Homo sapiens: one gene and its partner. The protein of the gene in region 2 interacts with the protein of the main gene of each other region in a biochemical or structural test. Each region holds a gene or a part of one and is shown on either strand. Other genes may lie near its edges.

Evidence for each region. The genes of interacting proteins can lie anywhere in the genome.
Region 1: of the proteins of CRTC2 (region 2) and SIK3, one has a biochemical effect on the other in vitro, tested with the Homo sapiens proteins (one study listed by IntAct).

The regions. Positions count from the first base shown.
Region 1 is NC_000011.10:117,095,160-117,102,742, forward strand, and holds the start of SIK3 (serine/threonine-protein kinase SIK3), read right to left. Parts: upstream 3,270-7,583; 5' UTR 3,257-3,269; coding exon 2,984-3,256; intron 1-2,983. UniProt on the Homo sapiens protein: Positive regulator of mTOR signaling that functions by triggering the degradation of DEPTOR, an mTOR inhibitor. Involved in the dynamic regulation of mTOR signaling in chondrocyte differentiation during skeletogenesis.
Region 2 is NC_000001.11:153,955,165-153,962,919, forward strand, and holds the start of CRTC2 (CREB-regulated transcription coactivator 2), read right to left. Parts: upstream 3,449-7,755; 5' UTR 3,334-3,448; coding exon 3,181-3,333; intron 3,067-3,180; exon of another isoform or gene 2,920-3,066; coding exon of another isoform or gene 2,897-2,919; intron 3-2,896; coding exon 1-2. Other genes in the region: SLC39A1 (zinc transporter ZIP1), read right to left, coding at 4,934-5,590, 7,056-7,186, 7,365-7,551. UniProt on the Homo sapiens protein: Transcriptional coactivator for CREB1 which activates transcription through both consensus and variant cAMP response element (CRE) sites.

The DNA of each region.
Region 1 (7,583 bases), on a different chromosome or scaffold from region 2:
TCTCTTAGTTCTTGGAATGGGTCATGTGTGTTTAAAAAAAAAAAAAAAAAAAAAAAGGAGGGGGATCATAATTATTTCTAATGTTCAGAAAATACCTATTACCTAACCTCCTTCAGCCAACACAAGTATCATCTGAATTACCTCTGTCTGACTGTTATATATGGTTATAAGAAAACCCAGACCATTTCCTACAAGGGGAAAAAAAAATCACACACCTCTAAAAGACAAAACAACAAATGACACATTCTGGAGACAGATGGGGGAAAAAAATAACTCTCTGTTTCCAAATGACCCCTCTGCAGAAGTAAGATAAAGGCTGCAGTGCATGGGGAGAAAAAAAATCAACCTGAGTTAACTGAAGCAGCAGCTTCGGCAACTTCTAGTACCTATGCACCTTCACCATTGTTATATAACCAAACCATAACCTTAATAGGCCATCGTACTGTATGTCGACAGCTGTTAGGCACATCTAAGCTGTCCGCATTTGAGAACCCCTTCCAAAGTGGATTCAGAGAAGCATGGAGCAGGCCAAAATATGCTCCTAGTTCACCCAGAGCACGTGACAACTCCTTGTGAATTAAGCTTCACTCATGTAGTCAGAGTAATTTAAGCAGCAAAAGATATAGCACTTGTAACTGTAACTAGGAAATTGCACACTGCTACAGAAACACAAATGAATGCTGGTGTGGCTCCTTCACACATGCAACTCATTGTCCAAGCCATTTCAGTCTCATTCAAGACTTTGAATATTTCCATACATAGGAATTGCACAACTGCATACCACAAATGATCAAAGATAAAAACCAACATAAACAGTGACACCCGTTTGTAAACAAGCCAGTGTTTAAAATGCTGCAGTCCTAAAGGATACCAAGGTCTCAGAGAAAAACTATGAAAAACACACGCACGCACATATACACACACATGAAAATTAGAAAGCGGGCAGACCAGCCATAATTAGGCACTGGCTTTGCTGACTACTGAAGATAGAAATGTCTCTTTTATATTAAAGCCAAGAATCAACTGTTTGCAATTACATTTACGAAAACATTCAACCCTGTCTGTAACAGATTTTATCAATATTTTGGTGTATCCAAGGGCTGGAAGATTCAAAATTCTTTAAATCATGAAACCATAAACCAGGCAACCAATTAAGTTCATGGAGACTATCCCCCAGAGGTCAGAGCAAAATAACCACAGGAGCACAAAGTGATTACACAGAAAATAGGCAGAAAAAAAGGAAAGAAATAGCAAAACAAGGAACAAGGCATATTGTTTGTAAATGTAAGTTTGCCTTGGCTAATAGTCAACTAGACTGGAAACACGGTGAGGGGCTGGGGTGGCAAGTGAGGAGCACACCAAAGTCTTGGCTCAATCGACTTCCCCTGACTTCCCCTCAGGGTCTGAGGGAGCCCTGGACTTTGGTATCTCATTCAGCTCTGACCTGCAGACTGGAGGCCCTGTGATAAAAACGGACAAAAAGGCTGAAGAGGGCCCTCCAGAGGAAGTGAAACTGACCAATCAATTCGCCACAGCCACCCACCCTGACACCCTGGTAAGAAGGGCCCCTTGTAGCCTCAGGCAGAAAGATGGTGGGGAAGGAACTTCAGGTTGCAAGTGATCAGGAGAGAAGGCCTAGATAAGTCACTGGCTTCAGAAAACAAGCCACTGCCAAAAAAGCAAAAACAAGGTAGGTCATGACAACCAGAGGCTAGGCTGAGGAGGTGAGGGGAATTGATGTGGCTTTGGTAGGAGGCGGCAGCAGCTGTAAGGGTTCTTCATTCCTCAGGCTGAGGGAAAACACAAGCTGCAGTTCTAAACATAATGAATGACTACATTAAAAGTATTCATTCAAGTAAGATATTGAGCAAAGAAAATTTTAGAGTAAAAATGGGCTTTGCGGGTTCCACCAAAACCAAAAGATTCCTCCTGATGTCTTAGATTCCAGTCCTCCCAACGAAGGCTACATGAAAGTGCTACCATATTTCCTCAAAGAATTTTACATGCATACATATATAGCTTCCTAATTGACCTTGGCCAATTTCACTCCTATAGCGCCTCAAATCCCTTTGAGAACTAAGGGCTCGATGAGTGTAATCTCCCGGTGTCTGGGTTCTTCAATCACAAGCTTCCCCCCAACCAGTAAAAGCCCACCCTGGGTTCTACAAAGCCCACAATTCCCGACCCTCCAACAACTAAAAATAACCAGCAATCAGCTCTCCCAAATTGTTTAACCCCTGACTACCTAGTGCCATCATAAACCTGGGACAGCCCCCACCCCCACCTCACTCCCCCATTCCCTGGGCCCCTTCCTGTGGACAAGCAAAGCAATTTCCCCCTTATTTCCCCATTTTCCTCATTGCCTCCTCCACTAATCGTGTCTCCTCGGGATCCCCTTCGCACCATCTATCAGTCTTAGATGATCAAATGCGGATTCCTGTCTCTGTCTTAAGGCACCAGGATCCTGGGACCTCCCAGCGCCCTGCAGACGTGCACATTCCCAGTCCGTGCCCCAGCCGTCCTGGGTCCCCTTACAAGCCCGGGTCTGCCACTTCACCCTTGTTTTTCCCCATCCTCCGGGTCCACATTTCATATGCCCCTGCCCTCATTCCCTTATGATTCCCTAGCTGCTGGTTCCAGAGTCTTCTGGGCTTACAGTCTCCCGGCCCTCGGGGAGTTCCGACCCCTTCTTTCCAATCATCCCCTTTACCCGCCTGCCCTCAGCCCCGAGGACCCCTCCCCGCGCCCGGCTCCTGGGCGCCGGTGCTCTGTGCCCTCGGCCCCCTGCTTGGAGTTCCGCCGTCTCGAGTCCCAGGTGTCCCTAGCTCCGCGCCCGCCCCGCCGCGGCTGGCTCCCTCCCGCCTCCCGGCCCCCAACGCTCCCACCACGCGCCGCGCTCGCCGCCCCGACCCCCCGGCTGGGGGGCGCGGACCTCTCCCGGCCCCGCCACGCTCCGACTGCCGCCTGGCCCCTGCGCCGGTACCTTGGCCTTGGTGACGAGGTGCGTGGCCCGCTTGACCACCGCGAAGTTGCCCTTGCCGATGGTGCGGTCGATCTCGTAGTAGCCGATACGGGCGGGCATGGGTCCGCGGGAGGCCGGGGCTGGGGGACGCGGCTGGCCGGCCGCAGGGGACACGGCAGCGGGGGCGGCTGGGGACCCCGGCGCGGGCGGAGGCAGCAGGCGGCCCGCGGGCCCGGCTCCCCCAGTCCCGGCCCCGGCAGCCCCGCCAGCTCCGCTCGCCGCCGCCGCCGCCATCTTGTTGTGCAGTGAAACCTCCGGGGCCGCGGGGAGCCGGCTCGGGGGAGGGGGCAAGGGGGGGCGGGAAAGGGGGGGCCGCGGACGTCACTCGGGGAGGCGGGGCGCTTTCGCCGACCGGCGCCCGGCTCCATGGCAACCGCGGGTCACGTGCCGACGCGCGTCACTGCCCGGAGCCATGGCAACCGTGACCTCACCGGCGGGCTCGACCTTCCCGCGTGGGCCCCGGTTCCTGAGGCGCTGGCTCCCGGGTGCCCCCCTCCGGGAGCTGGCGGTGGGAACCTTCGATGGGCCCCCAACCTCGAAGTCTCCGCCACCTTTCCCGAGTGGGGGGCGCAGGATGCCCGACCCAAAGCCAACCCCCCACCGCCGCTCGAATCGCCAATGTGACCTCTGCTGTGACCTCTGTCCCAGTTCAACGATCACCCAACCTCCCTTAACAAAAAAAAAGTGTTTCCTCATCACCAAAAATACCAGCGTTGTCCCACTTTAGCCCTTGAGGCCACAAATGCAGGAATAGCTACACTCTTGAAGCAACTGTAACCAAGTTGGTAACAACGCAGGGGAATTCTTCGGTAAAATTCCTTCCTCTTACAAAATCCAGCTCACCCTGCACAGTCAACCTAATTGTCACCGAATATAGGAGAATGGGGAAACTAGGATTTGCGTGTTCAAGGGCGGACAAGCCAGTCCAAACAGGCATTCCAGTCATTGGGTGGGTGACAGCCAAAGAAGGTACGTCATTTTCCTTCCTACCACCCCCATCTCTGAACAATTCTACAGGGATGTCTGTCAGAGTGCCTACATACTATTTCTGTTGCTTGTATAACCCTGATGAAGCAGTGGTGCGCATTGTCCAATGAACCACGTCGTGTTTAAACAACAGTCGGTTAAGCAAAATAAATAAGTAAATAATAAAAATTCCATCCTTCCTAGTGACTCTCCGAGGACATTGAGGGTCATCAAGTTAATAACTCCAGCAATTTCATATCTCTTTTTCTTCCCTTGCCTATTACCTGCATCCTTCATAGCTCCCAGGCTTCCTCCTCCTCTCTCCCCTTCCCTTTATTAAATAGATTAACTTAGCTGCTTTAGGTGAGGGTTGCAGGTAGGAAATCAGACTGTCAACAAAATAGTCTTTGGCAGGCTGGGTGGAAAGGAGGGAAGATTGTGAATATTCCAATGTTAAAATGTATTCCTTTGGACTAGTCCTGATCCATCCATATCTATGTCTCTCTCAATGGTAGAACTGTATTGTGAGGTCACTGCATGCACAGTATTAAAAACTGACACCCAGGGCACTGTAAATGTGTGGAAGGATAACTCGTGTTTACTCGCTGACCAAAGAACACCTCCTGGTGCTCCAATTCCCTATCCAACCATGAGTAATGGCTGGGACTTAAGATGGGACAGAGGGGTCATCCCACAATGGTCTTGGATCTATTCCCTGGTAGCTGTTCCAAACTGCCAACACAATTAACACTAATTGGCTCCCTTATTAGCAACTAAAGATAAGAATGAAGTGGGCCTTGGCTTCTTGCATTGGTTAAGCCCTTTCATCAGCTGAGCTCATTCCATCCCAGATAAATGATGGGGTGTGACCTGCCTCTCCTATCACTTCATGGCTCTCAGCTGCCTCTAGCAGGGACTATAACTTTGGTGCTGGGCTTCACAGCTGCAGTTTTTGGGTTTTTGTTTTTTTTTTTAGACAGAGTCTCACTCTGTCACCCAGGCTGGAGTGCAGTGGTGCAATCTCAGCTCACCACAACCTCCACCTCCCAGGTTCAAGCCATTCTCCTGCCTCAGCCTCCCGAGTAGCTGAGACTACAGGCGCACACCACCATGCCCGGCTAATTTTGTATTTTTAGTAGAGACGGGGTTTCGATATGTTGGCCAGACTGGTCTCGAACTCCTGACCTCGTGATCCCCCCGCCTCAGCCTCCCAAAGTGCTGGGATTACAGGCGTGAGCCACCGTGCCCAGCTACAGCTGCAGTTTTACCATCTCCCTGGGTGTCTCAACAGAAACCTTAGCTGGCTAGTAAAGCAAATAAAAAAATCTTTCACTGTGGAAGCTGCAGGAGCAGCACTGAAACCATTCTTACTGATGACTGTATGATCACAGAGTGTCCTCCACTAATGGAGGTAATTCGAACATCAAATATCAGAACTTTTGCTACTCTCTCAAGAGTGTCAAAAACAAAAACAACTCTGGGAAGGACCTAGAAAATGCAGCATTGTTCTAATTTCCACAGAGAAGAAGCAGATGACTCTTGTCCCTCAATAATGACCAGAACATATGCTGTGTGCTGTGTGTTATGTCACTTACGCTCCTTTCCTGTATAGATTGAGGTCACTAGATGGTGTTTCTGATTGAGACTTTGGTAGAGACTTGCTGGAGATCTCCTTGAAGAATAGTCCTCTTTGGCACAAAGAATATAGAAAATTAGAGAAGGGAGTAATCAAAGGAGATCATCAGGCAAAAAGGAAAATAGTTTAGATGTTTACGTTTAATAAGGATTTATTGAGTACCAAGAACTGAGTTAGGTTCTGAGAGAAACTCAGAGGAAATAGCAATCTGCCACGCGTTATGCTAAACAGTGTACCTAAGGGAACTCACTTAATCTTCACAACAACCTAATTAGATGGTTTGTATTATATCTCTATTTTGCAGATAAGGAAAATGAGGCACATAGGGATTAGGGGAATTGGCCAAAATCACAGAGCTAGAAAGTGATAGAACTGGGATTAAAACCCAGGCAACCTACCTCTGGAACCTAGGATCTTCCCCATTGTATTATAATCCCTGTCAAGGTAGGAGCCAGTAGGAAAAGTGGTCTCTCCATTAAGTTCAGGGTGACTGGGCTCAGTTTCGACCCAGGGAAGAAGAGTATTTTGAGAGGTCTTGAAAGCAGGACAGAGCAGGTAGCAGAAGCGCAGGAATAAAGACAACAAGACAGTAAGACTGAATGAAGTGCCTGCGATGGCTTCACTTGTAAATAGCACCAAGAAGAGTATCATGGCTTATTGTGTAGAAGTATTTCTGGCCCTTGAGGCCACACCTGTAATCCCAGCACCTTGAGAGGCCGAGGCGGGCGGATCACAAGGTCAAGAGATCACGACCATCCTGGCCAACATGGTGAAACCCCGTCTCTACTAAAAATACAAAAAAAATTAGCCGGGCATGGTGGCACATGCCTGTAATCCCAGCTACTCGGGAGGCTGAGGCAGGAGAATCGCTTGAACCCAGGAGGCAGAGGTTGCAGTGAGCCGAGATCGTGCCACTGCACTCCAGCCTGGCAACAGAGCAAGACTCCATCTCAAAAAAAAAAAGAATAAAAAAGAATATAGGCCTGGCCAGGCACAAGTGGCTCACACCTGTAATCCCAGCACTTTGGGAGGATGAGGTGAGTGGATCACTTGAGGCCAGGAGTTCGAGACCAGCCTGGCCAACATGGCAAAACCCTGTATCTACCAAAAATCTTTAAAAAATAGCCAGACTTGGTGGTGCATGCCTGTAATCCCAGCTACTTGGGAGGCTAACGCACAAGAATTGCTTGAACCCAGGAGGCAAAGGTTGCAGTGAGTCGAGATCGTGCCATTGCACTCCAGCCTGGGCAACACAGTGAAAACTCCTCTCACAAAAAAAACAAAATACAGGCCTATAAGTGTTGTGTTCCTGTCCTGAAGAAGACTCAGAGGAGTGGCTTGGGGGTGGAATTCTCAGAGCCCCTGTAATGCAAGACAAAGGCAGAGAGATAGACCCTTCACCCAGCTCCTAATCAGCCATCATTACCAACTCACCCTTTTCTGAAAAAGCAAAAGATAGATTCAAAGAGGAAAACGAGACATTTTCCTATGTAATGTCATTGTGTCCTGTTTCCAGAATTTGAAAAGAGCAGACCAAGTTATTCTCAATGACAGTGATAGGAACTTGGAAACTTTTAGAAGTGATACAGAATGTCTGAGGACCTAAGGTCTGACCTGAGAGTGATACAAACAGTGAGATGTCACATATTTTCAGTGATTTTCAAAGAACACTTAGGCTGCCTGCAGAGCAGTTTACCTGCAACCTGAAAGAAAATTGCAGCCTTACAATGTTGCTCCTTAGACTCTCGGAGCATGAGGACTTGAAGAAAGCCAGGCTTTGCACTTTTTATTGGTCCAACTCATTACTACTCTGAAAAAAAAAAGAAAAAAAGCTAAATTTATACATGCAATGTTGATACAGGAGCATTATTCAGAAATTCTGTATGCCAAAAGACAACATCGTAGTATATTTACATGCTACTAATTCCCCAAATAAGGAAATTACTCGCTGATTATAAA
Region 2 (7,755 bases):
AACTGAGACATGGGGAACAAGTGGGAATGTCAGGAGGGTCCTGAGCACTATTTCCTTCAGCCATCCTTGCCATCTCTGTCACCAGGATATGCTGCTGCCGCCACTGCTTTTAAAATATCTAGGCCAGGCACAGTAGCTCACACCTGTAATCCCAGCACTTTGGGAGGCCGAGGCAGGCGGATCACAAGGTCAGGAGATCGACACCATCCTGGCTAACACCGTGAAACCCTGTCTCTACTAAAAATACAAAAAATTAGCCGGGCGTGGTGGCGGGCGCCTGTAGTCCCAGTTACTCGGGAGGCTGAGGCAGGAGAATGGCGTGAACCTGGGAGGTGGAGGTTGCAGTAAGCCGAGACTGTGCCACTGCACTGCAGCCTGGGCAACAGAGAGAGACTCTGTCTCAAAAAAAAAAAAAAAAAAAAAGGATCACTTCAGCCCAGGAAGTAGAGGCTGCAGTGAGACATGTTTATGTCACTCCACTCTAGCCGCCTGGGTGACAGACTGAGATCCTGTCTCCAAAAAAAAAAAAGTTAAAAAAAAAATAAAGAAATTATCTGCCAGAAAAAAAAGGCCAGTGTTGGGGTTTGAAAGGTCCACCGAGATTTGGTGCAAATAACCCACCAGAGCCCATCTGCAGACTGCCCTCATCAATGATATCACTACTGCTTGACATCATCCTGCCAGGCAGAGACAGATACTCTGCTGAGGGCCTGTCTCATTTGGCATCACTCTAAGCAGAGTCCCTGAGGGGCTGCCAGGAGCTCCCGGGCTACTCACAAGGGGGAGTGCCTATTAGGAACCTCTGCTTTCTTTCCAGATGCGTCCAGGACTAATTGAGAGATTAAGAGGAAGGCCACAGGTGGATGTCACAGAGCCATTACTGCCAGCCTCTTTCCTTCCCACTCTGGAGAGCACAGGCTTCTGGGCTCTGCCACTTGCCCAGCCTCAGGAAGGCTACACAAAGCCTGCACCTCCCAAACTAGAACATCCAAGGAATAGCAGCTCTCCTAGCTGGAAAAACAGCACCAAAACCAAGGGACATTCTTCCACTGAATCCTAAGGCTCTTGAATTGGCAGGGAAGCCTGGAGAAGGAGGGTGGACAGAGAGCAGCAGCCCACTCCAGCATGGGCCAGGGCCATCTTCCTGGTCTCATCCTCACTTTGGGGAGCTATGTCTGGCATAGGCGTAAGACAGCCTGGCATGGGTTTAGCCTGTGTACAGACATCCTGTCTCTGTGAGAGGTGAGCATCTATTTCCAAGGCTCAGCCCCTGCGACCAGCCAAATAAACAGGCCCAGGGCAAGGCCATGGGGAGGAGGGCAGCTGAGGAGGGGCAAGTTCTAAGAGCTTCCAGGGTCACACTCTTGTACAGAAGCCAACATCAGAACTGACATTCTGTTCCAGGAGGTCAGCCTAGTGAGCACTGTGCTGACCTCTGGACCACTTGAAGACCACTTGAGGTCTCATATATGGCAACCCCAGTATCTCAGTGGTATAGCCTCCCATGGCCATCTCTGTCTCAAATGAGCCCTCCCACCTGGCCAGATAACAGGCTGAGTCCCAGATCTCTTGTCCCTAGCTCTAGACTTTTGGGTCCCCTGGCCATGTATGCCCACTAGACTTTTCTGTGTAGCTGAGAAATTAACCAATAGGAGCAAGGTGGGTAGAAGGGGCCTTTTAAGAGATCGAGGCACCGTAAAGAGAAGCCCCAGCTTTTGAGTTTCGCACAGCCTTTCTTTGCACATACGAGCCCTAAGATCCCACCATGCCTCTGCTAGAATCACAGTCCTGAGGGCAGGGCCTCACGCTATCAAGATCAGCCTCCCATCTTCCTGTCTCTGTCCCCAACATGATGAAAAAGCTCCTAAAGGGGAGCAGTCTACAGTTAGATAATAATCCTCACAATGGTTACAGTGGGTTATGCACACACATGCATTTAAGTGTGCACATGCGTGCACAGACACCCTCCCAGATTTGCCTCCCCACCTAACTTCTGACTCCCACAAACTAGGGCACATAGTCCCTAGAGACTCAAAGGGGAAAGGACGAGAAAAAAAAAAAAGTAACAGAGTCAAGGGGGATACACACAAAAATACAACCAGAGTCACAGTCATAAATGCAACCACAGTCAGACCAGCAGAAAAAGGCTAGAGATGTTGTAGTAATGTTCCACCATCAATCCTTAAATTCCTTCTAGCTCTCTGCCATGAGGAATCATTGCAATATCCTTACCTACTGTTGTTTTAGAAGAATGTGTCCCTAAATTAAGACTGCATACCACCTAGGCGGACTCCTACCCCTTGGTCCCTCTGACCTCCAGCCTTGGAAAGCAAGAAACCAAGCCAGGGGGGCTTCAGAGGCAGCCTGGCAGAGGCCTGAAAGTTCTTTCAAGAACTCCTAGGAATGAATATTCTCAACACATAGAAGACCCTCCAAGGCACCCTACACACTAACCCACAAAGCAGCCAACTCCCTAGAAAGCTCAGCAAACCATAGAGTTCCACACAACTTATGGTCGGACGGTTACCCAGTTGTCGGATTCAAAACCCTACCTCTCCTCCAAGGAGGCCAGGACAAAACACCAAGCAATGGACCTCACCTTCATTCACGTCAGGAAACCACAAGAAGTATTTGAAAAAGGAAGCAAAAGGACGGGACGCAGGAGGGGACTTCCTGCCCCACTATACACAGCACCGCTCGTTCAAACCACTCAAGGGGCCCTTTCCCGGGGGCACCAAAGCGCAGAAGGCAGAGGGACCAGTTTGGAGGAGATCACAAACTCAGAGGAGCCAGGTTACAGACAAGCAGCCCTCCTCCCAGGCCATACCCCAATACCAGGCATGCTTCAGTAGCGTCCTCGAGGGGACTCCGTCAGGGATGCACAAGGACCACTCACCTCCTACCTCCGCCGGACTTCATCTCCCCTCTCCGCCCACTCCCACCTCACGTACTCGGCCCCCAGTCGCCTCTACACCCCGAACCTCTCCGGTGTTTCGGTCTCCCCCGGCAAAATCCTTCTTCCTGCCCCTCGGCCCTCAACCTGCGCCTCCCAAACGGCGGCGCCCGCGTCCCCTGCTCTGTTCCGCCTCCTTCGCTGCGGCGCCCGCCCCCGCCCCGCCTCTCCGGTCTCCGCTCCGTAACTGCTCAGCTCTGCTCCGGCTCCCCGGCGCGGCCCCTCACCCGGGTGGAGCCGATGTCCATCATCACCTCCTCGAAGGCCGCCGTCTCCTCGGCCTGACGCTGCTTCTGCAGCGCAATCTTCTCACTAAATTTGCGCGGATTGGAAGCCGAGGCCGTGGCCGAACCAGGCCCGTTCGCCCCCGACGTCGCCATCTTCCTTCCCCGTCCCTCCCTGCCACCCTCCCAGTACCAGCCGCGGCCTCCGCCGCGGCCTCGGCCCGGCTCCTCCAGCCGTAGCCACCGCCGCCTCAGCGAGCACCGCGAACCCGGCCCCAGCCTAGCCCTGACCTGTTGCGCGCGGGGGCCGCCGGGAATTGTAGTTTGTTTACGAGACTCCTTCACATCCCCAGTCACGCAGCACTAGGAGGAAACGGACTCCACTTCCCAGCAGCCCTGCTGACTCCGGAAACTGGGGACTTGGCTCCACCCTCTCGGCTACTCCCTGAGAGGTGCAAGCTGGGAAGAGTAGTTCTAAATTAGCCCTGAGACTACGAACGGAAAGGAGAGAGGGATTGAAGAGAGAAGAAAGGAAGAGGGAGGGGAGGGAAGAGAAGGGAAGCCGAGGGGTGGAGACCGGGAAAGAAGTACCAAGACACAAAGGAGGAAAAATTAGGTCATCTTCAGGGAAGGGGACTATCGGGTCCTGAGTGAAAACAGTGAGACCAAGAATCTTAAAACAGCTGTAAACATCTGGGACTCAGGCCCTCTCAGGCTGGCCACATGCCCACCCCTTTCCCAAAACAAACGAATCAGATACTGTACAGATGTCTAGAAACATCTTTTATTTGGGTAACAGGTCCCAAAACAGGTCAGTTAATAAAATAGATTCTAAAGAATATGTCCCTATGCACAGCCCTCCCTCCCCAAAAATAACGCTGGGGGTAGGCATTGCCCTTCCCCCTTGGGCTCCTCGGGTGTATTTAAAAAAATGTTTTGGCAGCTCAGTGTTTATCATCTGGGCATGGGACACCATGTCCATGTCCCCATATTCCTAGGGTACAGCAGCAGTAGATGGCTGCAACAACCTTCCTCCTACCCCAGCCCAGAAAATATTTCTGCCCCACCCCAGGATCCGGGACCAAAATAAAGAGCAAGCAGGCCCCCTTCACTGAGGTGCTGGGTAGGGCTCAGTGCCACATTACTGTGCTTTGAGAAAGAGGAAGGGGATTTGTTTGGCACTTTAAAAATAGAGGAGTAAGCAGGACTGGAGAGGCCAGAGAAGATACCAAAATTGGCAGGGAGAGACCATTTGGCGCCAGTCCCCTAGGAGATGGGAGGAGGGAGATAGGTATGAGGGTAGGCGCTAAGAAGAGTAGGAGGGGTCCACTCCAAGTGGCAGGGTGCTGAAATGGGCTAGGACCAACAGGACACTGACTCTAGGTTTATGACCTGTCCATACCCGTTCCACAGCAGCTGGGTACCCACCTCCAGCCTCCCATGTGAGCCTGTCCTTATGTATAGTGTCCAACCTCTGATTCTAGCAGTCAAGTGTCTTCCCCAATCCTAATGTCCCCTGATATGTCTCTAGCGACTTGACCATCTCTTGTTCCTTGGGACTGGGGCCAGCCTCTTGTCTGCCCACTTCCCTCTCATTAGTCAGATAGCCCCAAAGGCTCTATCTTTAGCTCCCAGAGAACTTTTTGGTCCTCAGTATTTCCCTTCCCCTTTCCTTCCTATTCCCCACAACTGGGGGAGGGAAGGGAGAACAGGGGCACCTGATCATCAATCTCCCCTGCCCCTCTCTTGAAGCCCCCTAGATTTGGATGAAGAGCAGGCCAGTGAGCAGGGCAAAGCCTGCTAGGAGCAGAATGACCTTGAGGATCCTTTGCTCAGAACTGGCCAGCTCCTGGGGCAGGATTTCCAGAAAGGTGATATAGAGAAAGGTGCCAGCTGCCATGCCCTCTAGCACAGACTGGGCCAGCTGGTGCAGAGGTCCTGCCGACTCTGCCAGAGCTGCACCCAGCCCGATGCCTAGAGGTGTCATGCATGAGAAGAGGATCCCACAGCCAGCCACCACCTGTGCCCTAAGGTGGCTCTGCAACAGCCGCAGGGACAGGCTGACAGCCAGGATGCCCTTGTGGAGCAGCAAAGCCAGGCACAGCTCCATGGCCCGAGCCCGGTCTCGCTGCAGCCCTACCGCCAGCCCCTCGAACACGGAGTGGAGGGCCAGGGAGAACACCAGTACACAGGCACGCAAGGCTGAGGGGGTTGCTGGGGCTCCACTCGCCTGTGGGACCCCTGGCCCATCATGCCAATGCTGCGGCCCACCATTCACTGTTCCCAGCAGAGCCCTTGTTTCCTCCAGAGGTGACGGCCCTGACTGCTCCTTGTAAGCCAGTGTGATCTGCTCCATCACCAGGACCAGGAAGAAGCCCATGGCCAGGATGAACTCTTGCAGTGGGAACTGGAGCTGTGGGCAGAAGCAGCAGCAAAATGTTCAGGGAAGGAAGAGTGAGATGCAAAATCTGGTGAAAGCCCAGTTACACAGACCTAGGGTCTGACACAGACACAGGGCTACTCTCAGTCACACAAAGATAGAGTGAATTGGTAACACTGACACAGAATGATACGTACACACAGATTATGGTGTCACTCACAGTGTTACGTGTAGACCAAAGTTTCTCAGCTTTGGAACTATTAACATTTTGGGGCCAGGGGCAGTGGCTCATGCCTATAATCCCAGCACTTTGGAAGACCAAAGTGGGAAGATCACTTGAGGTCAGGAGTTTGAGACCAGCCTGGCCAACATGGTGAAACCCTGTCTCTACTAAAAATACAAAAATTGGCAGGGTGTGGTGGTGGATGCCTGTAATCCCAGCTACTCAGGAGTCTGAGCCAGGAGAATCACTTGAACCCAGGAGCCAGAGATTGCAGTGAGTCGAGATTGTGCCACTGCACTCCAGCCTGGGCAACAGAGCAAGACTCTTTCTCAAAAACAAAACAAAACAAAAACAAACAAACAAAAACATTTTGGGCCAGATAATTCTTTGTCATGGGAGCTGTCTTGTGCACTGTAGATTGTTTAACAGCATTTCTGATCTCTACTTACCAGATGCCAATAGCAGGCACAATGTTCCCTCCATCCCCCTCCCCATTGTGACAACTAAAAATATCCCCAGACATTACCAAATGTTTCCTGAGGGGCAAAGCCACACTCCTAGTTGAGAGTCACTGATGTAGACATACATGAAAAGGTCACACATTGCCCATCTCCCCAAATACTCATACATAGAGCCACATATCACAGGACATTCAGGCTTATACGCAGTCACACGGAAACACAGGTCACTCAGTCACAGACACACAAAGGGATACATCCAGTGTTACTTCCTCAGTTTTAGAGGAAAAAAGGAAAGAGCCCAGGATGACTTTCCTGCCCCACTATCCAACGGCCTCAGTTTTTCCTATAATAAACCAAGTCCTATGCCGTGGACTTGATCATTCCTCACAGCCCACTTCCTTGGGCCAAAGCCTAAAAAGGTTAGCAACACCAAGACCCAGGGAATCGCTTCCTATCCTTCTCAGGCCTACAGAGACCTCTATCTCCAGCCCTTTAGGAAAGTGGTGAGAGAGTGAAGATGATTCTTGGAGCACTTGCTGGTAGCTAGAACTGAGAACCCATAGAGCAAGTCACACACCTGAGAAAAAGTGTCTTACTGTCTCAACGGGAATGTAGGGGTCACACAGGGAATGGGGAAGGGGGAGGGAACACATAGAAAGAATTATGCCCCATAACCAAAAATCACAATTCATACCACATGCCAAAAGTCTTCCACACAGTCATGGAGTGGCACATGAATCAATCTCCACAAACCAACACTCCCAGAGGTGTGTGATTCCCCTCCCGCAAGTCACATGCCCAGGCCAGTGCTCACCGTCACGTGCAAGGCTGCCAGGGCCTCATCTATGGCAGCCAGGTAGTCAGGCAGCAGGTCCAGGAGACAAGTGGCCAAAAAGACGCCCCCCGCGAAACAGCTTACTAGGCTCAGGGCTTTCTGGCGGGAAGCTGGGTAGGGGTGAAGCACAGAGGGGAATAAGCAAACAAACCCCCTCCAGGGCCGACCACCCCAACCCAAACAATGGCTACCCTTGCCTTTCCCTCCTCCTTTGGTCACTCCCCGCCAGCCCCAGAGCCCTCCCTAAGCCAAGCATTCATAGCAGTGTGGGGAAAAGGAGAGGCTTACCTGAGCCTTCATGGTTAGCTCCTGGCCGGCGCAGCACACAGATGGGCACCAGGCTGCAGAGGAGGGTGAGCACCAGCAGCAGCACCAGGGCCCCCAACTTCACCTCCAGCCCCACAGGCACTGGAGGCTCTGAAGCTACCGCCTCGGGGCGCCACACCAGGAGCTCTGGCTCTCCCCAGGGCCCCATGATGCTTCTGGTAGCTCCAGTGACTCTCAGACCTAGGAAGACAGACCAGAGTGGTTGGGAAAAATCATGCAAAGGAAGATGGGGCAAGGAATGGGGAAGCTTGGTCAGCAGAGTGCAGCTCCCTGGCCCCAGCCACTTTGTGACCTTCCCCTACCCAGGGTGACTCATCTACTCCTGTACCAGGAACATTCCTCTCTTCTCACA